Homo sapiens: one gene and its partners. The protein of the gene in region 2 interacts with the protein of the main gene of each other region in a pairwise test. Each region holds a gene or a part of one and is shown on either strand. Other genes may lie near its edges. The genes, in order: PPFIBP2, PPFIA1, CAGE1 and PPP2R5A.

Region 1 (6,224 bases), about 63 Mb from region 2:
AACCCCCTGACTCTAGCCATATGGGCCCACTCTTCACTGGGCCTGTCCTTCCTCCCAGTCTTTCAGCTTCTGCTCCTCTTCCTTCTCTCGTCTACCATACGAAATAACCAGCCCCTTTCCCTCTTTACTGAGGTAAACATTGCAAAGCCAGCCAGCTTAAGGCCCATATCTACCACAGACTCCTCCTGGACATCTGCTAAGTGTGGGGCCACGCACAAGAGCTGATACAGCCCTAAAGCAGCTCAGAGTTTGGAGGAATATGGACAGAGACATAGACATAAAGTGATGAAATAGCATAGCAGATCTTTGTTTGATGTGATATGTATGTAACAGAAGAGTAAAAACGACTTAGGGGCAAGGGAGCTTTAAGAATTTGATCTATATCCTGAAGGATTAATAATCTTGCAGAATAGAGACAAAAGGGCTTTCCAGGAAGATAAAATAGTGTATGCAAATGCAGATAGGCACAAAAGAATAGAAATTACTCAGCTTCTCAGTTTGGGGAACAGTGGAGAGGCAGCTGGAGAGCTAAAGTAGGGCCCACCACTGTAGAGATTTGAATGCCATACAAGGATGGTGTATTTTATCCTATCAGAGAGACAGTCCTATTCCTTCTGTGTCTAGGCCTCCCATCTACAGGTATGTTAGGGATCATGATTACTATGCAACATAGAACAGGGTGATTAAAAGCATCAAGCACAATGAATGCTCAGCTTTCAGTGTGCATAAATGTGTACATATGAACATGACAGAGAGAGGAAGTGAAAGTAAGAATAACCAGGGAGAACCAAGCCAACGACCTTAAGGCAAACAGAAATCATACATTTGCTGAAGACAAAGCTCGGAGTCAGCAGTCCCCTGGAACTTGAGGCACTAAGGAGATCTGGGCCTAAAGCTAAACAGATTATTCTAGGACAGCCTCTTTTAGAGGCTTATTTACCAGATGAGTGAGAGATAAGAATGAAGCTTGTGAAGATCCACAGTCAAACAAGACTTGGCTTTAAGGGTGTATAAAGGATAAAGCCCACCTTTCCTAGAACTACATAGATTCCATGAAGACAGAGACACATAGGTGCCATCAAGCATTGGAACCAAAAAATGATACTAAGAAACATAAAGTCCAAGGGAGGTGGAGCTCCTCTGAAGAAGAAGGACGCAGGGAAAATAGTGACTCAGGAATAAACAAAGCTGCCAAAAGTTTCAGCCTAGTTGTGCCCACACCAAATGGGGACTGAATGTCACATCTTGAATGGGGATGAACAGGCTGTAGAATGGAACAAGTGTTATCAGTTGTGTTTATATTAGTGCTTCCTTCTTATATTTTGCATTAGGATATCCACCAGAGGATTTCAAACACGACAGCATCATGAACAGATTTGCATTTCAGGAAAAAAAAAAAAAAAATCTTATGGCCAAGTAAAAAACCACTTCTAAACTGAAAAATTCTCCCTGGGGTCTGAAAGGTTGAAGAGATGAGTAACTCCTCTCTTCTCAGGCCCAGTCCCAAGGTGCAAGGCCAGTTGTGCTAGCAGCGTGCGTCGGCAAAACAGCAAAAGCAGGAAAAGAGCCAGCCGGAAAATACCCACCCCAACCGGAAGACACGTACCCCCTGAAAACCAAAAGGGAGGCCGTCTGGGTACCACGTAGCAGCTACCTCAAACTGAGACACTTCTTGTTTACAGGAGACTGTAAAACCCCTGCCCTGTCCTCATTTGGTGCTGATGCCATTTTAGGCCTCAGCCTGCCTGCACCCAGGCGCTCATTAAAACAGCATGTTGCGCCATACCGCCTCGTGTTGTCTGTTGGAGCGCTCTCAGGGTTTGAACCAATACAAGAACTTTTCATCTGGTGCCGAAACCTGGGAGAGGCTCGGGTCTGTGTCCCCCGTGGACCTACCCCTCTATGCTGGAAAGCAGGCCACAGCAGCTGGACAAAGGAAGCTCCTTAGCCTCCAGTCGCCTCTCTGTGCATGCAGATCAGTCACTGATCTCACCTACTGGTAAGCTTCCCCGGGAACCTGGTTAACAGGGAAAAACGTGCTCGGCCTCTTTTGGTTTCTCTGGTCCGAAAATCCAACGTTGGTCCAAAAAGGCTCCAGCGTGTGCCAGGCACTCGCTGATCATCTGGTCTTAGGGGGACACCTCTAAGCCATTTGATCCCGTTCCAGGAATGAAAAAGGCAGTGGTGACGATCGCTCCTTTTATCGTCTCCGTCCGGCTGTCCAGGACTGTCTCCTTTTTCCCTGTTCTCCTGTGCCTACCCTTCATTATGGGAAACTCCCGGCCCTCCATTCTAAAAAACAGCCCTCTAGGCTGCCTCATAAAAAACCTGCAAACCTTAGGCCTCAGGCAAGATATCCGCCCTAAGCGCCTTTTCTTTTTTTGCAATTCAGTCTGGCCACAGTACAAATTAGATAACGGTCCAAATGGCCGGCAAATGAAACATTCGACTTTACAGTTTTAACTGATTTAAGCAAGTATTGCCAACGACCGAAGAAATAGGAAGAAATTCCTTATTTCCAGGCCTTTTGGCACTCAGATCACAACCCGACCTCTGCAATTCTTGCTCACCTGTTCAAATCCTTCTCCTCCATTCTCGCAGCCCTGATCGCCTTTCTCCTCCCGACCATACCTCTTTTTCCCCGTTAGATCCAGCAGACTGCTGTCCATTCCTCCCAGACTCTACCTCTCCCTCTCAACCATCTTCTTTAACCCCGCAAGCCTCCTCTTTATCTTCTCAGCCGCAATCTTCTCAGCTGCCATCTTCCCAGTCGCCATCTTCTCAGCTGCCATCTTCCCAGCCACCATCTTCCCAGTCAGCAGTACCCACTTCTTTTCCTACACTGTCCTCTCCTGAGGACAACTCTAGCACTGCCTGTACTCATTCTCCTTCCTCACTGCCCTCTCCTGAAGCCTGTAAACCCATCCCGCCACCTTACGCCCCTATCTGTCCTCCACTGCTTATCAACTCAAACCCCCTTTCCCCTTCAAACCCTCAGCAGGAACGACTTCTGACTTCTTCCTTCTCTCCCGCCCATACTCGCTCGAGCGCCATCTTTGGCTCATGCCCCACCCTCACTTCAGCGCCAGTGCTAGAGTGTCCCCTTTGGGAAGTAGCAAGAGCTGAAGGTATTGTTAAGAGTTCATGTTCCCTTCTCCCTCACTGATCTCTCTCAAATTAACAAAAGACTCGGTTCATTTCCAGACGACCCTACCTCTTATATCAGGGAGTTTCAGTACCTTACCCAGTCTTATGAACTAACTTGGCATGACCTCTACGTTATCCCCTCTTCCACCCTCACCCCAGAAGACCAGGACTGTGTCTGGACCCTAGCTCAGGTGCATGCTGACACAATTCATCAACAAGCTCCTGCCAAGCCTACTGGTGCAGAGGCAGTCCCCAACCAGGACTCCCACTGAGATTATCAAGACAGGGCCTCTAGATGCTGCCATCGAGACCACACGATTATGTGTTTCCTTGCAGAACTCAAAAAGGGTGCCCATAAAGTGGTAAACTATGAAAAACTTCCAGAAATCACCCAAAGTCCTGACAAAAACCCAGCCCTTTTTCTCTCTCATGTAACTGAAGCCATGAGAAAATATACCAACCTAGACCCAGCCAACCCAGAAGGAACCACTATCTTAAACCTTCGGTTCATCTCCCAATCCATTCCCGATATTCGGTGCAAGCTTCAGAAGCTTGACGACGGCCCTCAAACCCCACAACAAGACCTTCTTAATTTAGCCTTCAAAGTCTTTAACAATCATGATGAGGAAAGTAAAAGGCAAAAACAGGCAGAGTTTCAAATGCCTGCCTCCGCCATCAGGGGCCCTGCAGGCCCACGGGGCCACAGCTCCACACAGAAGCCTCCTAGCAATCCACCTCCACCTGGCGCCTGTTTCAAGTACGGCAATGAAAGCCACTGGTCCAGACAATGCCCATACCCAGGTAAGCCCACCAGGCCGTGCCCCCTCTGCGGAGGACCCCACTGGAAGTCGGACTATGAGCGGCCCCTGCAGGGACCGCCCCCCATCCCTTCCTGAGCAGGCCAAAACCTCCTACTCGGATCTCATTTGCCTTGCCGCTGAAGACTGATGGTGCCCTGGAATGGATGCCCCGGCAACTACCATCACTTCATCCGAGCCAAGGGTAACCCTGATGGTTTTAATCAACATGGGTGACCTACTCTGCTTTACCTAATTTTTCAGGACCCACCCAGTCCTCCTAAGTCTCTGTTGTGGGAATTGATGGACAAGTCTCCTAACCCCGAGCCACCCCTCCACTTTTCTGCTTCCTGCACACCTTTTCCTTCACTCACTTTTTCACCCCAAACCTGGTCTCATTCCCAACTCTGCTCCTAGGCAGGGACATCCTTTCAAAACTCCACACTACTCTCCACTTCCACATTCCCCGTAGTACCCAACGCATCAACCCAGACCCCTCCGAGGCTTCTAGCTTTCTTCTGCTCCTCCAACCTCCCACCCTAAAACATGCAACCTTTCCTTACCCCTATCTGTAGTTAACCCCGCTGTTAGGGATATTTCCACACCCTCAGTTGCAAAACACCACACCCCTGTCCACATTACCCTTAAAGACCCCACACTATTGAAGCCAATCTGCTCCTCCCAGGCACCACCTCCCAAAAAGCTGAACTCATCACCCTCACTCGAGCTCTCACTCTAGCAGCCGGACAACAGTTCTCTAATTTAGGAGGATTTAAAACCCTGGTAGGGACAGTAATCTTCATCACTTTTTCTCCCCTGTGTTATCCCACTAATAATAAAAGCCACTAAAACTCTTATTGAAACTACAGTTAGCCACCAGACAATTCAGACTATGCTCCTGCTACAACGACACGATGGATACCAACACATCTCTCAAGAATACCCTAAAAATTAAGTTTTTCTTTTTCCAAGGAGCCCACACCACCCCTAAGTCACGCCTGAAGTAGTTATTGAGAAAGTCACCCCTTTTCCCTTTTTACTATAACCAAATAGACAGGAATGAAAGATTCTCCCCGGGGTCTGAAAGCTTGAAGAGATGAGTAACTCCTCCCTTCTCAGGCCCAGTCCCAAGGTGCAAGGCCAGTTGCGCCAGCAGTGTGCATCAGCAAGACAGCAGAAGCAGGAAGACAGCCGGCCAGAAGACACCTACCCTGGCTGGAAGACACGTACCCCTTGAAGACAGAGAGAGGGGCCGTCTGGGTACTGTGCAGAAGTTACATCAGACTGAGACACTTCTTGTTTACAGGAAACTATAAAACCCCTGCCTCGTCCTCACTTGGTGCTGACGCCATTTTAGGCCTCAGCCCACCTGCACCCAGGCGCTCGTTAAAACAGCACGTTGCCCCACACCGCCTCATGTTGTCTGTTGGCAGGCTCTCGGGGTTCGAACCAATACAAGAACCTTTCATAAACTTTACCTTAAACATTACAGTCTAAAGGCCATACCATTCCTCAGGCCCAAAGCTGAATCTTCCCAGCATTGTTTCTCCCTCCTCACTTCTCATTGCATCTAATCAGTCTAGAGACTGTCCCATTCCCTAGTCCTCTGTCCTACAGATTCTATCTCTCCGAAGTCTCCCTACCTGTCCCCACCTCATCACTCTCTCAGGCCCAAAATAAGGCCTCATCCCTTTGACCCTGGATCAGCCTCCCGGTTTCCTATCCGGCCTCGCCGCCCCCACTGTCTTTTTCCCTTGGAGTTTGCTTCCCACCACACTCCCAGAACTTTGCCATTGCAGCAGTTGCCTTCGGGTTTGTCAACAGAATCACCTGGGGGAACTTGGTAAAAACATCCCAGACTACTTAATCTGAACGTTTTACAAAACTCCCCAGGCGATTATGAGGCATAGCCAGGTTTGCAAACTGCTACTCTAAATCCTTGCTACACATAGGGAAATGATCAGCAAGCTCCTGGGAATCTGTTAGAAACACAGAATGTCAAGTCCCACCCCTGACCTATGGAATCATAATTTGCATTTGAACAAGATCCCCACAGGATTCTCAACTTTGAGAAGCTCTGCTCTACAGTGTTGTCAGACCATGCACTCCACAAATATTTACTGGATTTTCTCTGTATCAGGCTAGGAATTGGGAGGGTCAAGGACCAAGGTCTTTGACTTTGAGAAGTTCACAGAACCATCAGTCAGTCCCCTGCTGTGCCTTCAGACCAAGTCCAGACTTCTGTACTGGACAGCTGGGACTATTTTCCAGCCTTGTCAC
Region 2 (5,828 bases):
GGCCTCAAGTGATCTTCCCAGCTTGGCCTCCCAAAGTGCTGGGATTACAGGCATGAGCCACTGCCCCCAGTCCCTTTTTTTTTTTTTTTTTTTTTTTTTTTGAGATGGAGTCTTGCTCTGTTGCCAGGCTGGAGTGCAGTGGTGCGATCTTGGCTCACTGCAACCTCTACCTCCTGGGTCCAAGCGTTTCTCCTGCCTTAGCCTCCCGAGTAGCTGGGACTACAGGCCAGCTAATTTTTGTATTTTTAGTAGCGACTGGGTTTCACCATGTTGGGAAGGATGGTCTCGATCTCTTGACCTCGTGATCCGCCCACCTCGGCCCCCCAAAGTGCTGGATTACAGACGTGAGCCACCACACCCTGCCCAGTCTCTTTTTTTCTGGAAGTTTTAAGATACTCGACGCATGCCTTTGGCTTTGTTCAGCCAAAAGGGACTATTAAATGGAAAAAAGCAGGGAGGCACTACATTATGTTTTAAAGCTCACACTGAAGTTAACCTCAAGAACTAGAAAGTACAGAAAACAAGGCTTTCCCTACATTAAGCAGGAAGATCAGCAAACACAGGTTCGAAACAGGAAAGCACTGAACACCCGATGGCTGCCTGAGAGAAACGTCCCAGGACACACTGACCCACGTGACAGCACGTGCCACTCAGACGAGGTGTCAGCAACGGAGACAGAATGAGGAAACGGAGACCAAGGTGACGTCGGCAGTGGCCGCTGATGCCTGCTCCAGGTGGGGTGGTGGTGGCCATGGGCTCTGCGAATCCCAGGCTCAATGGCAACACTGAGGTGGGAGGAGGGGAAGGGACACTTGCTGGTGTCTGGCTTTCCTCTTGGGCATCAGCTTCCAGCCCTTCAGCCTCAGCTCACCAACTTCCATGGGTGGGCCCTGCTTGACTCCCCCAGCCTGTCAGCGTGTCGCCTCCCCTCTGCCACCCTGGGCTGCTTCACAACTCAGGACCGGATGTGAGCTATTAGGGAACCAGGCTTCCTGATTTCCAGAGGCCATCAGTGTGGAAGGGTGCAGGCCTGGGAGCCACCTTTGTGAGCAGGCAGGGAGAGCAGGTGGGAGTGTGAAGCCAGCACCGAGGAAGGAAGCAGAGCTGGGAAACGGTGTTAAGGGACATGCGTGCATGCGCGCGGTCCACGGCCTAGGCTCTGCCTTTGGGCCCTACCCACCGACTGTGTATGTGAGCCCCCACATTTGCATTTAACAATTTAACACCAGGCACCTGTCTCCTGCAGTGATGCAGGCTCGGGACCTCCAGAGCAGCGGGCAGGATGACGCCCTGAACCTGCACTTCATCTCCTGGCTGCTTTATTCTGTCAATTGACTTCTGTAATACAATTTCCATATGGTGACACTGCCTTCCAAAACAGTTAGAGCTTATTCTCAGTATTCTTCATTGGCAGTGGAAAATGCTTCAGTACTTTATTGAAAGAAAGCAATAAATAATACTGTGATAAAAATAGTTCAAAAGTAGACTGTACATACTTTGTTACATAATCAGGAAGTTGACAAAAGATTAATAGAAAAACAGAACAGTAACAATGAATTGTACAAGTAAATTAAAAGCAGAAACCAACTGAAAAGACAGGCTGCCTCTGTCTCTGGATCTGCTGCACAATAAATACCACGCCATGGTCTGACACACTTTGCTGGCTTGTTAATATGCCATTTAAAAAGTAAAAGCCACATCTGCAACTTACACAATCCAAAATGGCTAGAGCATCAAAGTCTAAAAATGTCCCACTAGGTTCGTTCTTTAAACATGTTTACAAACAAATGTAAAAAGATGATTTACATAAGAAAAATAAGGCCTTTATTAGAGCTGCACTGCACTGCTTTCTGGGTCTCCTGCCTTCATCCACTGTGTGCGCCGACTTGCAGGATGAGAGCGTGGTGCTTGGTGCTGGCCCTAAGGGGAGCCACATGGGTGTCTCTCCACCCGCTCCCAAGGAGCAGAGGCAGGGAAGAGGGTGCAGGGGCTAGACTGGTCCCCAGGTTACCCCATCCCGAGTCTCTCCAGCTGAGAGAACTGCTCCCAGCTCACAGTCTCAGCCACTGAAGACAAGCTCCCCAAATCCAGAGACTAGGCTAGGAAAGCGTTAACCAGTGCTAGGGGCTTCTCATAGTGTTGTGATAGTGTTTTCAGTCCACATCTTATTAGGAGCTGATATTTAACACCAGCCATTTTAAATCTGTTCATGCTGCAGAATAAAGCATCTCTTGCTAGAAAAAGTACAGTTAAGGTCAGTCATGAAAATACAACAATTGCTTGAAATTAGGTATGCTTATTTCAGGATGATTGCTGTAGAGCTAGGCTGCGTCCGTAAAGGATAATGCACATGGCTTCTGTCATAATTTTATAAACGTAAAATCCTTTGTCATGGTTTATCATTAAAAAATTAATGATAATTACAATAAATGCATAATTTACAAAAGCCCTCTATTCATAGGATTTATACATACAAGCATTACAGTACATTCATTTGAAAGACTAAAATTAGGTATAAGAACATGATTTGAAAGGATATTTATAGCCTGGATATACATGAAAAAGTAAGTAACTATATAAATGAAGAGTCATAAGTTTACATAAATATAAGAAACATTAAATTCTAAAATATTTTCTCTATGGTATTCATGAATTTTTCACTAATTAAAAACTCTGTAATAAAATATCTTAGGGTCCATATAACAAGTATTAACAAGATTAAAGATTCCACTGGATTCCAAAATGTAGTCTTTGTTGGATTCAAATGCTGCATAATCATCTGTAGAAGTAGTGTGGGTAAACTGGAAAATAAACACAAACAAAAAACCACTCAGTACAGGCCGGGCCATACTGACGAACGGGAACTTCTGATGCTGGGGCCCAAACGTCCCCCCGACACTGACCCCTCCCCTCCAGGACCCCTCACTTTCTGTGCCGTAGCTGCTCTGAGAATCACTGGCTAGAACATCAAGGGCTATGCACATCAATGAGACAGCTCCTTGGCTGACTTCATTTTGGCTTACGTCTCCATGTTACCAATTACAAATAAAAGATGAACAAACCAGTCAAATATTCCAACGGAGACCTTAAAATTGCTTAGAACAGCAAGGAGAGGGCGGGCCACTCACCAGCCAGAGTCCGCAGTTTTAAGAACCAGTCTCTCCAAACTGAAAGGCTATTAGTGTCACACTTAGTATAATATATAATTAACCACAAAACTTTGGGCTTGTTTCATTCAAGAATGTGTATTTAAAACAAAGCAAGCTTAGGAATCACAGCAATGTGCATAACGACGTCAGGAGGAGAGACTCTCCCCTGACGCTCTCTGCCATGCTCTGCTCTCCTCCCCACTCCACCCCCATGACATCCACAGACAATTAAAATGAGTCAGCATTTTCAGGTTTAAGGAAAAGGTGAAAATACATTTTTTTCCTTAAAAAAAGAGGACACACTAACCTCTTTATGATCAATTGTAACAACAAAATGATCTTAATGGGTACGGAGAGCTTGTGTCTATATATATTTTAAATTCCCCAAAAACTGCACTGGCTTTCATGGTCCACACCCCTAGTCTGGCACTGCAGCTCCGATGACTCCTGCTGTGCCTCTGAGCCATCTCTAGGGGTTGTGGTGCTCTCTACTCACCAACAGGAGACTTTAGCAGGAGTAAGTCCTGACTGTAGCAGAATCCAACCTCTGTGTTCCTGATACATTGCCTGTTTCAACAGCCACGAGAGGAAGCGTGCAAACACAGCGTGCAGTTAGTCTTAGAACATCACATGAGGGCACAAGTAGACACACATCTTCACACCTACAGCAGTGCCTACGGAGGGACCTGAGGGGAGCTGCCTGAGTGGGCGGGATGGAGCCAGAGAGATCCAAGTGTCACCCAGTGGTGGCTCTCCCCAGCTCCCAAAGAGCCCCGGGAGACTCTGGAACACTACTCCGAAATACCAAGCACCAAATGGTACAGTAACAATTTCAAAATGTACATCTGCATAAATGACCCCTACTTAGAGTGATCCCTTTATCTCTTACTAAACTCTGCATTCATAGACCAATGGGGCTTTCTCCCTGCCCTAAGTGCTCCATCTCTAACACTGGTATGAAGGAAACACCAAGCGGCACTGCTGATGCTGCCCAGCCCCACTGAGCGCAGAGGCCAACGACGTCGGGTACAAGACCAGTCTAAGAGGAGGGAGAGAACCTTGCTACCCAGCACTAGCTGGGTGTCTGGGAAGCCGGTGCCCTTTTCTCCTGGGGAGGAGCAGAGCAGGTGCAGAGATCTGGCTGCAGGGGTGGGGCGTTGGCCAGGGAGTGGGGTGAAAGCTGATCTAAAAACTGAAGCCCAGTCTCAGTTCCTACCAGAAATATTAATCATAGAGACCACAGATTTTGGTTCTTGTTCAAGAAACACAGTGTGGCCATAAGTAAGCCCGATTTCCATTAACAACTGGGATTTTAAGTTTTTGCAAATCGGAAGCAGGTACTGGCTGCTCCCGGTTATGTTTTTTGTTTTCCCACAGGTATACCAGGAACACTTAATCAACATCCTGCATGGTTCCAGCAAAGACATTAAGACAGTTGGGACTGTTGGTGAGGACAGATGATCTTCACAAACCCTCTGACTCTTAAGAACCTGGGAGACCTGCTGGAGTTTACCCCACATTCCCTTAATTAAAAAGCCATTAAAATAGTCAACTTTGCTGGGCACGGTGGCTCGCGTCTGTAATTCCAGCAATTTGGGAGGTCAAGGCAGGAGGATTGCTTGAGCCCAAGAGTTAAGACCAGCCTGGGCAACATGGTGAGAGCCCATCTCTACAAAAAATTCAAAAAATTAGCAAGGCATGGGACCACACCTGTGGTCCCAGCTACTTGGGAGGCTGAGGTTGCAGTAAGCCGAGACTGAGCCACTGCACTCCAACCTGGGCAACAGAGTGAGACCCTGTCTCAATAATAATAATAATCCCTTTAGCAGGCTTGTGCCTGAGTTATTTAATGTAAGGGTAAAAAGTCTTCTTTATAATAAATTCCCTATACCTTTTAGGTTTACTTTTTTTTTTTTTTTGAGACAGAGTTTTGCTCTTGTCGCCCAGGCTGGAGTACAGTGGCATGATTTCGGCTCACTGCAACCTCTGCCTCCCAGGTTCAAGCCATTCTCCTGCCTCAGCCTCCTAAGTAGCTGGGATTATTGGCATGTGTCACCATGCCTGGCAAATTTTTTCTTTTGAGACAGTCCTGCTCTGTCGCCCAGGCTGGAGTGCAGTGGTGTGATCTTGGCTCACCACAAGCTCCGCCTCCTGGGTTCATGCCATTCTCCTGCCCCAGCCTCCCGAGTAGCTGGTACTACAGGCGCCTGCCACCGTGCCCAGCTAATTTTTTTTTTTTTTTTGTATTTTTAGTAGAGATGGAGTTTCACCGTGTTAGCCAGGATGGTCTTGATCTCCTGACCTCGTGATCCTCCCGCCTTGGCCTCCCAAAGTGCTGGGATTACAGGCGTGAGCCACCGAGCCCGGCCGATTTTTTTGTATTTTTACTAGAGACAGGGTTTCACCACGTTGGCCAGGCTGGTCTCACCACGTTGGCCAGGCTGGTCTCGAACTCCTGACCTCAGCTGATCCACCCACCTCAGCCTCCCAAAGTGCTGGGATTACAGGCGTGAGCCACCGCGCCCGGCCTAGGTTTACTTTTCATCCATCCAAACTCTCATTCTTAATATTCCTGTTAACATTTAACAAGGGAGATGTGATTTATCAGAAGGAAAACTGAAATTGAAGCCACAAGTAAAACAAGAAAGCACTCGTGGACTCCAGGTGACAGAGCTTGAG
Region 3 (6,224 bases), on a different chromosome or scaffold from region 2:
CTTATAATCCCAGCTACTTGGGAAGCTGAGTGAGGCAGCAGAATCACTTGAACGCAGGAGGTGGAAGTTGCAGTGAGCTGAGATCACACTACTGCACTCCAGCCTGGGCGATAGAGCGAGACTCTGTCTCAAAAAATAATAATAATAAAATAAACAAATAAAAATAAAAAAAGACAGTAATTTGTGGTAAGAAATGGTGAAATGAATATGACATTAAAAACCCAGGGCCGGGTGCAGTGGCTCATGCTTGTAATCCCAGTACTTCAGGAGGCTGAGGCGGGTGGATCATGAGGTCAGGAGATCAAGACCATCCTGGCCAACATGGTGAAACCCCATCTCTACTAAAAATACAAAAATTAGCTGCGCGTGGCGGTGTGCACCTGTAGTCCCAGCTACTCGGGAGGCTGAGGTAGGAGAATTGCTTGAACCCTGGAGGTGGAGGCTACAGTGAGCCGAGATCACGCCACTGCACTCCAGCCTGGGCGACAGAGCGAGACTCTGTCTCAAAAAAACAAAAAACAAACAAACAAAAAAAACAAAAACAAAACCCAGGCCAGGCACAGTGGCTCATACCTGTAATCCCAACACTTTGGGAGCCCAAGGTGAGAGGATTCCTTGAGACCAGGAGTTGGAGACCAGTTTGGGTAACACAGTGATACCCTATCTCTTCAAAAAAAATATTTTAAAAATCAGTCAGGTGTGGTGGCATGTGCCTGTAGTCCTAGCTCCTTGGGAAGCTGAGGCAGGAGGATTTCTTGTGGGCCATGATCACACTGCTCTCCAATCTGAGTAACAGAGCAAGACACCTTGTATCTAAAATAAATAAATAAGTAAAAACCCAGTAAAAGGTATCTGTAGTGGTGTGCTGTATAATTCTCTGGAATTTAGAGACAAGGACTTCTGTATTTTGTTTTTTGAGCTCATCCTTCTGCAGAACCTTGTATCTTAATGGTTTTTCATTGTTCTGGGATAAAGATAACTATCATTACTGAGACCTACAAGGCCCTAATATCTTGCTCTTGATATCTGCTGTGCTTTAAATGCATCCCCTAAAGTTAACGTGCCGGAAGCTTGATCCCCAATCCCCAGTGCAACAGTGTTGGAAGACGGGGCCTAGTAAGAGGTGAATAAAAATGACTAAATGTTGTTATCACAGGAGTGTGTTAGTTATCACAAGTGGATTTGTTACAAAAGTGAGTTTGGGGGCTGGGAGTGGTGGCTCACACCTGTAATCCCAGCACTTTGGGAAGCCGAGGCAGGTGGATCGCAACGTCAGGAGATTGAGACCATCCTGGCTAACACTGTGAAACCCTGTCTCTACTAAAAATACAAAAAATTAGCTGGGCGTGGTGGCACACACCTGTAATCCCAGCTACTGGGAAGGGTGAAGCAGGAGAATTGCTTGAACCCGGGAGGCGGAGGTTGCAGTGAGCCAAGATGGTGCCACTGCACTGCAGCCTGGGCGACAGAGCGAGACTCCATCTCAAAATAAATAAATAAATAAATAAATAAATAAATAAATAAATAAATAAAATAAAAGTTAGTTTGGCCTCCACTTGCTCCCTCGATCTCACCTTCTTTTGCCCCTCCACCTCCCACCATGAAATGACAGCACAGAGACCCTCGAGTGATGCTGGCACCATGGACCTAGCCTCCAGAACCGTGAGCCAGATAAATTGTTATTCATTATAAATTGCCCAGTCTGTGATATAGTTGCAGCAAGATGAAATGAACTAAAGCAGTATCTGACCCACACCACCTCTCTGTCTTCATCTGCTGTACCCCTCCTCCTTCCTCCAACTCTGATCTTCCTGGACTCAGGGCTTCCTTCAGGTCCTAGTAGGTACCATGCTTCCTGTGGCCACAGGGTTTGCAGACGTTCTTCCTTCTGTATGGAAGGCTCTCCTACCCATGGCTGCCTAATTAACTTCTACCCATCCTTTAGAGCTCAGCTCAATGATCATTTCTTCAGGGATGCCTTCCCCAGACTCCCTGATCAGGGTAGTGTCCTTATCATAGATGCCCAACCTACTTACATATGCAGCACTTATCATAGTTGCAAGTTTATCTGTAACTTGATATAGCATCATAGCATAAATAGTAACTTTATATAACATGCTCTACATATACTTTATATGTAACTTTATTCACCTTATTGATCTTATTATAGTTGCAAGTTCACATTTATTTGTGTGATTGATTAATGACTACCTCCTCTAGTAGGATGCTGTCTTCATGAGGACAAGAACTACATCTTTTTGTCTATTTTCTAACCATCACCTAATGTGTAGTACAGACCTGCCATGTAATAGATGCCTAAAAGTATCTATTGACTGAATGAAAAATGGCTAAATGCAATGAAAAGAGGAAAGAACAATCTTGCGAAACCCTATTTAAGCTGATTTTTAAAAGGTTGTTTTCCAGAAATCAACTTGGACAAATAAAGTCCTTTTAAATGCTGTCATCTACTTTCAAAAAAATGAAAATGCTCATACTTGTAAATAAGACATTATAGTCATAGTGTTTCCCATCAAACTCACATTGGAAAGGTATTATTGGCCAGGTGTGGTAGCTCACACCTGTAATCCCAGCACTTTGGGAGGCCAAGGCGGGTGGATCGGCAGTTCAAGACCAGCCTGGCCAACATGGTGAAAACCCGTCTCTACTAAAAATACAAAAAAAAATTAGCCAGGTGTGGTGGCACACGCTTATAATCCTAGCTACTCAGAAGGCTGCAGCAGGACAATCGCTTGAATCCAGGAAGCAGGGGTTGCGGTGAGCCAAGATCATGCCACTGCACTCCAGCCTGGGCAACAGAGTGAGACTCCGTATCAAAAACAAAACAAAACAACAAAAAAAGAGAAAAGGTATTACTTATACTATTCTTGAATTTTATCTATTTTCCCATACCAATTCCTAGTATTTTTAATTTTTTTGTTCAGAAAGTACACAGAATATATACTGTCGGTATCTTCAGTGCTCTTAGGATACTACATGTGTGCTCGGAATCAATAAACCAAATGATAAACTAATATTTTCACTTTAGTAGAAAAAGTAGTATTTTTTGCTTGTCAGTAGAATTCCAATATGACAGAGAAATCTTGTTTTTCTTGAAAAATGAATTAGTGCCTCTGCACTCCTTCCTCTTCTTGACCTTTCCATCAGTGTAAACTCTGCTACTTCCAGCCATTTTGATTCAACAAATATAAAAGCTTATTATATTCAGACTGCTCTGTCTACACAGTAGCCATTCTTTTGTTTCTTTACTTCTCTAATAAACTTGTTTGTGGTGAAAAAAAATTATGGTAAAAAAAGCTTATTATATTCAAGGAAACATATAGACGCTGTGGTGCATAAGAGGGTGAGTAAGACAGTCCTGATCCTTAGAGAAATTACCATTTGGTAGAGCTAATCCTCAAGTATGGACTTGATTTTACTAGAAAAATTTATTTCTGAATTGGCTAAGATCTCAGAATGCATTTTCCCCAGAGAAGCAAAGTCCCTCATGCTAACTAGGTGATTTAACACTACTTGGAAAAGTCTCAGATTATATATATATATATACAATTTTTAAAATGCATCCTTTAATACTCCACAGGCTTTACTGACCATCACAATCGTACCTCCTCTGCTTTATAATTAACTCTCAGATGAACTAGGTTAGAACTATTCTCTTTATCAAATGGTTTTACAATATTATTGTGTACACTTTCCTTACATAAGAAGCTTGGAGGTTGGCTAGGGTTGAGGGCAGATTCCTTGGCAATACTTTTAGCCAGTGACTTTTCTGTAAATTTCAGCATCTCTCCACTGCAGTGGATTAGAGGCGGGCTTCTAGGAGGAGGCTGTCTAAAATACTCGTTACCAAGTTGGTCTGTATTTGCAGAAACACTAGTTTCCATTGGATTTTCTTCCTTAAATGAGTCTTGCTTTATATTGTTGTCTTTTGCATAATTATACACTTGACTTTGAAATTCTGGCTTCTCTGTCATTTCATCATCAAATGCTTCTACCCAGTGAAATTTGCAAACGGTTTCAAATTGTCTCAAGGAAGATATGCTGATGGTGTCAACTGGCTGAATTAGTGCATTCGTTGAGTAATTTTCAATGTTGTTATCTCATAAGAAAGAGAAAGAAGGAAATAAAAACGAGTAGACCATGAACTTGGATGGTAACAGTTATATTTATATTTATCAAATAAACTGCTGTAGCCACTTAAAAATTATATATTATTTCAACCTTATTTACTGTGTGAATTTTAGCATGGTTTTGTGCTAGCAAACAAAACAAAACTTTTTACATGGGGGAAAGAAGTCCCCAAATGACTGCTAGGAAAAAGTGTGTTATATGTAATTCTGGTCAAATAAAATTACAATAAATTTCAAGAGATCTTCAAAATTCTTTTGTTGTACTGTAATTTTAAGATGTTTTAAATTATACAATGTTTCAAAAGGACAAGGATAGTATAATAGAAAACACATATAAACTTGCTTAATCTCACAAAAATCCCATGATGTCAGTACTGTTATTATCCCTATTTTACAGATAAGGAAACTGAAGTGTAAGAGATGTTAAAGTCACTTGTCCAAAGTCACAGAGCTGCTAAGCAGTGCTGCTGAGATTCTAGACTACTACTTCTAAATGCTATGCTATACTATTTTTCAATATGACAAATTATGCAGATGTAATGTTTTTTAAAATCAGGAGCAAATAAGAAAACAGAATGTTACAAATTATTGATCCCTTTTATCTAACTTTCCTCCTCCCCAGAGATAACCAGTGTACTGAAGCCCATATGTATTCATTCTTCCCATTCCCATTTTACTTTTACTACTGATTTATGTATCCTAAATAATAAAATCAACATAATCTTGCCAAAGAATAAAGTTCCCAGATTTCCTCATTTTGTGACACCCTTAATGTCTCAGTACTTTTTTTCACAGTACCTCTGGACCAAAAGGAATACTTAAGTTCCATTTAGTAAATAATTAAGTTCAAACTAGTATTTGTCCTAAGTTATTAGCTGTTTGAAAATACACATAAACTAAAAGAAAAATATAATATTTTATTCTTAAACAACCACACTTTACTACTTGGATGTACACTGTTAGGCACCGTACAGCACCTCAAATCGTGGAATCAGATTGGAGACCACCACTCTCACTTCCTATTCCACAATGATTTTCATACGGGACTTGCTTTTTATTATAGCAACCTCCAAAAACCTACCTTTACAAATAAGACATCATAGGAAGGACTATAGTATGGGTTTATAGTGAAAACTACAGCTAACAGATTGTGGGGGTCTGATAGATGTCCAGTGTCACTGTTTCCCTCAAACTCCAAAATACCCTGCAACACTTTAGGTGAGTGATTAATATATAGTATTGTTTTATGTGCTTTTATATTTTACATAAATAGCATCTCACTCTATCTATAGCCATATAAAAGTCTTGGACGCAGTGGTTTACGCCTGTAATCCTAGCACTTTGGGAGGCTGAGGTGGGTGGATCACCTGAGGTCAGGAATTCGAGACCAGCCTGGTCAACATGGTGAAACCCCGTATCTACTAAAAATACAAAACTTAGTGGGGCGTGGTGGTGCACATCTGTAATCCCAGCTACTCAGGAGGCTCAGGCAGGAGAACCACTTGAACCTGGGAGGCGGAGGTTGCAGTGAGCCGAGATCATGCCACTGCACTCCAGCGTGGGTGACAGTGCAAGACTCCATCTCAAAAAAAAAAAAAAGTCTTTATTTCACACAAAATTTTGCTTCTGAGGCTTAGCCACATATATACATATATATGTAGTTCATTCTACTGAAAGATTACACTTTATTCCTTTTTTGTTGGCTATTTAAGTTGCTTCTAATTTTGCCCTTAAAAACAGCACTGCAGTGAACATGTTTCCTTCTATGCCAATGTAAAAACTTTTGGCTAGGTTCTGGGGATACACCTAGAAGTGAAATTGCTGGATTATAGAAAATACATATCTTCAACTTTACTAGATATTGCAAAATTACTCTCCAAAGTGTACCAATTTATGCTTCTACCAGTAGCCTCTGGGTTCCTTTGCTCTACACATCTCTCCAAAACATGTCAAATTCATATGCATGAAATGGTATTTTACTGTGACCTTCTTAATGTACATCCTTTCATGTATTTAATGGTCTTACAGGTTTCTTTTTCTGTGATCTTCTTGTTGTATACTGTTATGGGCTCAATT
Region 4 (6,224 bases), on a different chromosome or scaffold from region 2:
AGCATGTTTCTACATGTACACCTATGCTGATATATTATTCTCTAAATATTAATAGAAGAGACCAAAATCTCTCTAACTAGGTCTAGGTTATTGCAGCTGGAAGAAACATTCTGTAGATATGTGGGATTTATTCAAAGTCACATAATTAGGTCAAGACCTGGACTATAATATGAGGAAAGTGTGTATCTTAAACTGTAAGTGTAGATATAGAAATTAAATAATTGGTCTTACTTAACAACTAAATACTTTAAAATAAGAAAAATTTGCTTTGGGTAATTTTGTAAGCAAATTGCTTAATTATACTTAAAACTGTCATCTCAGTATTTCTCAATTTCTCTGCCTTTATATTGGCCTTTGAAATAATATTCATTTCATCTGAAATGTTTCTGAAACTTACCTGAGCATGAAACAAAGCTAATCCTTTTGCAGTATGCATAGGAATAAGAACCTTCATTAGAAATTGTTTATGTTCTGCTTTCAGTGGCAATGCAAAGCCATTGATAATACTGGAGGGAAAAAAAGGCAGGGGAAGGGTTAAGTAGTTACTACTTTGTTTCTAAAAGCTGTCATATCCATGAGTACATAAGGAACAGTGCTATGCTTCAATCCTGGTGTTGTATGACTGCTCATCTTCAAACTACTTTAGGAAGACTATTACTATGAAGTCTGTTCCTCTAAGTCATTTGATGATTCCAAAAGAAAATTAGGACTGTCAATTAATTCCCAAGTAATTTCTATCTTCATTTTCTATCAAACCTGTCACTTTATGCATTGTTGCTTTTATTTTTGCCCCCAAAGCTCCAGGAGAGTCAGTACCACAATATTGTTAGAATGTTCAATATTTTTCTGAAGTAAATGGGTAATTTTTCTTACTTTGTTGGATAACGTGAAAGAAGTAGTTCTCTCCACAATCATTTTCTACTATTAATAAAGGAAACTAAAATCATTGTCTAAATAGTAACAGAAGGGTCTAAAATTCTCTTAATACTAATACGTAGTGAATAAGGAAGGCAAAGTGTTATGGCAAAAGGTAATAAGAATTCAGCTGAGGCTGGGCATGGTGGCTCACGCCTGTAATCCCAGCACTGTGGGAGGCCGAAGGGGGTGGATTGCCTGAGGTCAGGAGTTCAAGACCAGCCTGGCCAACACGGTGAAACCCCATCGCTACTAAAAATAAAAATTAAAAAATTCGTTGGGTGTGGTGGCAGGCACCTGTAATCCCAGCTACTCAGGAGGCTGAGGCTGGGGAATCTCTTGAACCCGGGAGGCAGAGGTTGCAGTGAGCCGAGAACGCGCCATTGCACTCCAGCCTGGGCAACAAGAGCGAAACTCCGTCTCAAAAAAAAAAAAAAGACTTCAGTTGAGAAACTATGTGTTCTACATTTAAACTCTAAAATATGACATAATTTCTCCAACCCCAGCTAAGATTTTAATACATAAAACATTCACTTACTTAATTCTTAAAAAGAACAAAAAAACCTGACCTACCTTCCTAATATTTCAAGAAGTTCAGCAACACCATTGAAATGTTCTGTTTCATATATAAACCTGAATTTAAAATAAAGACAAGATGTAATCAAAATCAAACTTCAGAAAACTAAGAGAAACAGGCAGGAGGGTGAAGAAATCAATCCAAAGGACAGCTATTAGAAACACACAAGCATGTTTTGGGTCTTATAAGCAGTTTTGCCCCAAACAGTTAATTCATATCAATCTTAAAAAAGAAGATGTTTCCTACTGAACTACATATGCCTTTGCCAAAACTCGCCATATGTGAAGATAACAGATTGTCATTTCACCTGGAATATTCAACTTAATAATTAATAAGAAAGATAAGTTTCCTCAAAGAAATACTTTTTAAAATAAGAAACCTCTAATTATAGGGAAATCCAAGAGAAAAAGACCCATATGTAATAAAGCCATTTTTAATCAGAATTTCTTTACACCTCTAACTATATAGGCTGCATAGCTTTCCAAGATTAGGGCTGCCTTTAAAGCAGGGAGACATAAATATAATAGGGCAGATATTTGAAATGGGCTTAGGAAGTGATGACAGAGAACTGGAGAAAGATATTCACTCTAGAGGAGGCAGATATTACTCATCTCTAATTGTTGCAATGTGGGAATAGTAACCAAATTTTGCCAGATCTTCAATTAATTAAACAAACCAAACCTTGAATGTGGGTGTTGTTATGAAATCTCCTGATCTGAAGCAACTACTTAACAGATTAATATTTATAAAGTACACTTGGCCCTGTATCCGCAGGTTTCATTATCTGTGCATTCAACCAACTACAGATCAAAAATATTTTTGAAAAATAAATACAAATTTAAAATATAGAATAACATCTATTTGCACAGCATTCACACTGTATTAAGTATTGTAAGTAATCTAGAAATAAAGTATACAGGAGGATGTGTGGACGTTATATGCAAATACTGTGCCATTTTATATAAGGGACTTTGGATTCTGCTATTAGCAGGGGCCCTGGAATCAATCCTCCCCAGATACTGAGGGATGACTACAAGCAAATGATAGGCCCCATATAAGAGGACTGCTTGAGTTCAGGAGTTCAAGACCAGCCTGGGCAACATACATAGTATGTTACATATATACTACGTTACATATATATGTTACACATATATACTATGTTACATATATATGTTACATATATATACTACGTACATACAGTACATAGACCTTGTCTCTACTAAAAGTCAAAAAAATTACCCAGGCGTGGTGGTGCACACCTGTAGTCTCACTACTTGGCAGGCTGAGAGAGGAAGATTGCTTGAGTCTGGGAGATGGGGGCTACAATGAGCTATGTTCTCACCACTGCACTCCAGCCTGGATGACAGAGTGAGACCCTGTCTCAAAAAAACAAATAAAAATAAAAGAACTTGAATACAAGAAGATATGTAGGAGGAAAAGGTGCAATATACAATAAATGATTAATTTACCTGAGGAAAATGTTGTTAATTTGTTTTCTGATGAATGCTCTTAATCCAAGAAATTTCCCATAAATTCGGTGCAGAACAGTCTTCAGGAAGTCACGTTCTCTGGGATCTTCACTATCAAAAAGCTCCAGGAGCTTTAAAAGAAACCTGAGAAATTACTTTTAAAAAATAATCGAGCTAAAGCTTTATTCTAATTTTGATCTTAAAGATTATCCATGACATCTTTTAAAAATTTTTTAGAGTTCTTCCTTACCACACTGACTTTATTCTTGCTAAGTAATGAAGGTGAGGAAAAGCTTAGGAAATATTTCTTCTCACTTATTTCACTTCAAAATATGACATTTACAATAAATATAAATATTTCAAAAAGTGGATTTTTCTTTACCTTCCCACTGATTTTAAAATTCAATCCTACTCTTGAATACTAAAGAGGCTCACAATTTTGGAGTGTTAAAATTTGGGATTTTTAATGCTTTTTGATCGTCAAAACTACATAGAAAATCGTTTAAGTTTTTAGATTGCAAGTCATCAAATAGTCTTAAAAAGATCCATGTGTAAATGTATATTTCTAGTTTACTAGAAAGATGTACATATACTAAGACTTCTTTTTGTGAATTTACAATAAATTCAAGACAGTTACCATGCAGACATTTGAAAAATTAACATTCAGTTATTAGAATAAAATATTGGCAGATACATACTAATAGAGTAGAAATCATATATAAAATAACACTGGACTAAAAGATGAGGCCAAATTTTTTTTTTTTTTTTTTTAAGACAGTCTTGCTCTGTAGCCTAGACTGGAGGGTAGTGATGCAATCACAACTCACTGCAGCCTCGACCTCCTGGGGTCAGAAGATCCTCCTGCCTCAGCCTCCCAACTAGCTGGGACTACAGGCACATGCCACCACACCCAGCTAATTTATATATTTTTTGGTAGAGACGGGGTTTCACCATGTTGCCCAGGCTGGTCTCAAACTCCTGAGTTCAAGCGATCCACCCTCCTCGGTGTCCCAAAGTGCCAGGATTATAGGCGTGAGCCACTATGCCCAGCCCATAGATTTTTCAGCTTAGCAAATAGCTGAAAAATTTTAAACCAGTTCCACAGTCAGCACTCTCCTATACCTCAATTGGCCCAATCAGTGTACTCCTATATTCTGCACAACTTTTCAGCAAAACCTGAGAGAAGAGACTTTAGAAAAAGTTAAAGTCAAAATCTCAAATTTCCATTTAAAATGGTAAAGAAACTTAATTTCTTCTGTCAAAAAAAACACTGTATTTTAAACATTGGATTTTCTTAGAAAAATATAAAATACTCTCTCTAGAGTACAAGTATCTGTAAAGCTGTCAAGGAATTTTATGTTCTGAACTTTCGTGTTTATAATTACAATAAAGATAGCAAGCTCTGAACCTCATCAGAAGTTCTTATTCCATTTTGTTTTGAATTATATACAATTGCTAACACATGCATCTGAAACCAGAGTGGATGACTTAAATCATATTTATATCTCCCAAAACAACTGCCATACTTATAGTTTCCATTCTTTGTTTGCTAGGCTGTTAAGGCCCTCATGAGACTCCAGCAAAAAATATCTACGGAGTATGAGAATTTTTGTTAATATATCTAATAAGTTCACATCAAATTATTCTAATTAAAAATGGCAGCCGGGCAAAGTGGCTCTCAACTGTAATCCCAGCACTTTGGGAGGCCAAGGCAGGCGGATCACTTGAGGTCAGGGATTTGATACCGGCCTGGCCAACACAGTAAAACCCTGTCTCTACTAAAAGTACAAACAAAAATTAGCCAGGCATGTCGGCACATTTGCAGTCCCAGCTACTTGGGAGGCTGATCCAGGAGAATCGCTTGAACCTGGGAGGCCGAGGTTGCAGTGAGCCAAGATCCAGCCACTGCACTCCAGCCTGGGCAACAAGAGCAAAACAGCCATATAAACTGCTAAAAGCAATTACTGGGCCCTAGCTTCTCAGATAATTCAAGCATTTAAAGTAGAAGGTAGAAAACAGATCCTGCCCCACCAGTTTTCTTTTTGCTCCCCTCACACCACAAAATAATACAGCAGCTTAAATACCTCAAGCTCTAGACTAACAAAGCACTAAGGCAATTGTTCCCCTCAACCTGTTACTGTATTAAATACAATTTCATATGGCATTACTAGAGCTCCCTAATGTATCCCACACAAGAGCTGCACAAGGAAATAAACAGGCATTCATTTGCAATTACCAAAATAACATAACTCCATTTAATGTAATTTTTAGTCATGATTAAAATGTATATGTTACTGTTAATACACACCTAATATTTCTTTATAGTTTATGAAGAGCTACTTCAATGGTTGAAGGAAATATTTTAGGCTGACAATGTTCTTCATTTATCAATCCTTCACAGCAACAGGTCAGAATACTTTATATGAGGTCAAGGGTAGTTATGAATGACCAAAGATCAGCTCTAAATATACCAAACTCACATTAGTAGAATTTTTATCATAGGGCACATACAAAGCGGTCTGAAGGGTAGGAAAGGTCCTTGCAATGATTTTAATCCTGGCCTCAGCATCAAATTCCTAAAGAGGCCTGCATACTCAGGCCTAGAAATGCCTAGAAAGGTTTGGTCTACTTCACAATTTTCTTTGGGGCCAGCCAATTCCATATAGTTAAAAAGGGGCCTTTGGCCAGTGCAGTGGCTCACACCTGTAATCCTAGCTCTTTAGGAGGCTGAGGTGGGAGGATCCCTTGAGGCCAGGAGTTCAAGACCAGCCTGGCCAATGTGGTGAAACCCCGTCTCTACTAGAAATAGAAAAAAAAAATCAGCCGGGCATGGTGGCGTGTGCCTGTAGTCCCAGCTACTTGGGAGGCTGAGGCAGGAGAATCGCTTGAACCCAGGAGGCGGAGGATGAAGTGAGCTGAGGTTGCACCACTGTGCTCCAGTCTGGGCAGCAGAACAAGACTCCCTCTCAAAAAAAAAAGAGGCCTTTAAATTTTTGAAAAGGTTTTGAAAATGAATATATTCTTAGAAATTGTGAATATGTAGGTTCCAAAAATAACAGCTAATAAGCAGTTTATAAAAAAAAAAGAAGGCATCACAATTAATTCTACCTCCTTACGTTCTTAATGATTCCACTTTATCTGTGGTTTAGGAATTGGGTGGTGGGGCTTAGGTGCAAAGAGGAAAGAAAAAGGAAAAGGTAATTGATACTTAGGAAAGGAGCCTAAAGCCCAAATTCCTCACAATGATTCTACTCCTTTTTTCC

The links.
Region 1: the proteins of PPFIA1 (region 2) and PPFIBP2 interact in a two-hybrid assay, tested with the Homo sapiens proteins (one study listed by BioGRID).
Region 3: the proteins of PPFIA1 (region 2) and CAGE1 interact in a two-hybrid assay, tested with the Homo sapiens proteins (one large-scale study listed by BioGRID).
Region 4: the proteins of PPFIA1 (region 2) and PPP2R5A interact in binary tests that used the Homo sapiens proteins (3 or more experiments, as listed by UniProt).

Annotation. Positions count from the first base shown.
Region 1 is NC_000011.10:7,515,687-7,521,910, reverse strand, and holds part of PPFIBP2 (liprin-beta-2), read right to left. Parts: intron 1-6,224. UniProt on the Homo sapiens protein: May regulate the disassembly of focal adhesions. Did not bind receptor-like tyrosine phosphatases type 2A.
Region 2 is NC_000011.10:70,379,976-70,385,803, reverse strand, and holds the end of PPFIA1 (liprin-alpha-1), read right to left. Parts: intron 3,717-5,828; coding exon 3,658-3,716; 3' UTR 3,646-3,657; intron 2,802-3,645; coding exon of another isoform or gene 2,776-2,801; 3' UTR 1,408-2,775; downstream 1-1,407. UniProt on the Homo sapiens protein: May regulate the disassembly of focal adhesions. May localize receptor-like tyrosine phosphatases type 2A at specific sites on the plasma membrane, possibly regulating their interaction with the extracellular environment and their association with substrates.
Region 3 is NC_000006.12:7,374,904-7,381,127, forward strand, and holds part of CAGE1 (cancer-associated gene 1 protein), read right to left. Parts: intron 4,118-6,224; coding exon 3,714-4,117; intron 1-3,713.
Region 4 is NC_000001.11:212,342,671-212,348,894, reverse strand, and holds part of PPP2R5A (serine/threonine-protein phosphatase 2A 56 kDa regulatory subunit alpha isoform), read right to left. Parts: intron 3,093-6,224; coding exon 2,962-3,092; intron 1,549-2,961; coding exon 1,489-1,548; intron 507-1,488; coding exon 398-506; intron 1-397. UniProt on the Homo sapiens protein: The B regulatory subunit might modulate substrate selectivity and catalytic activity, and might also direct the localization of the catalytic enzyme to a particular subcellular compartment.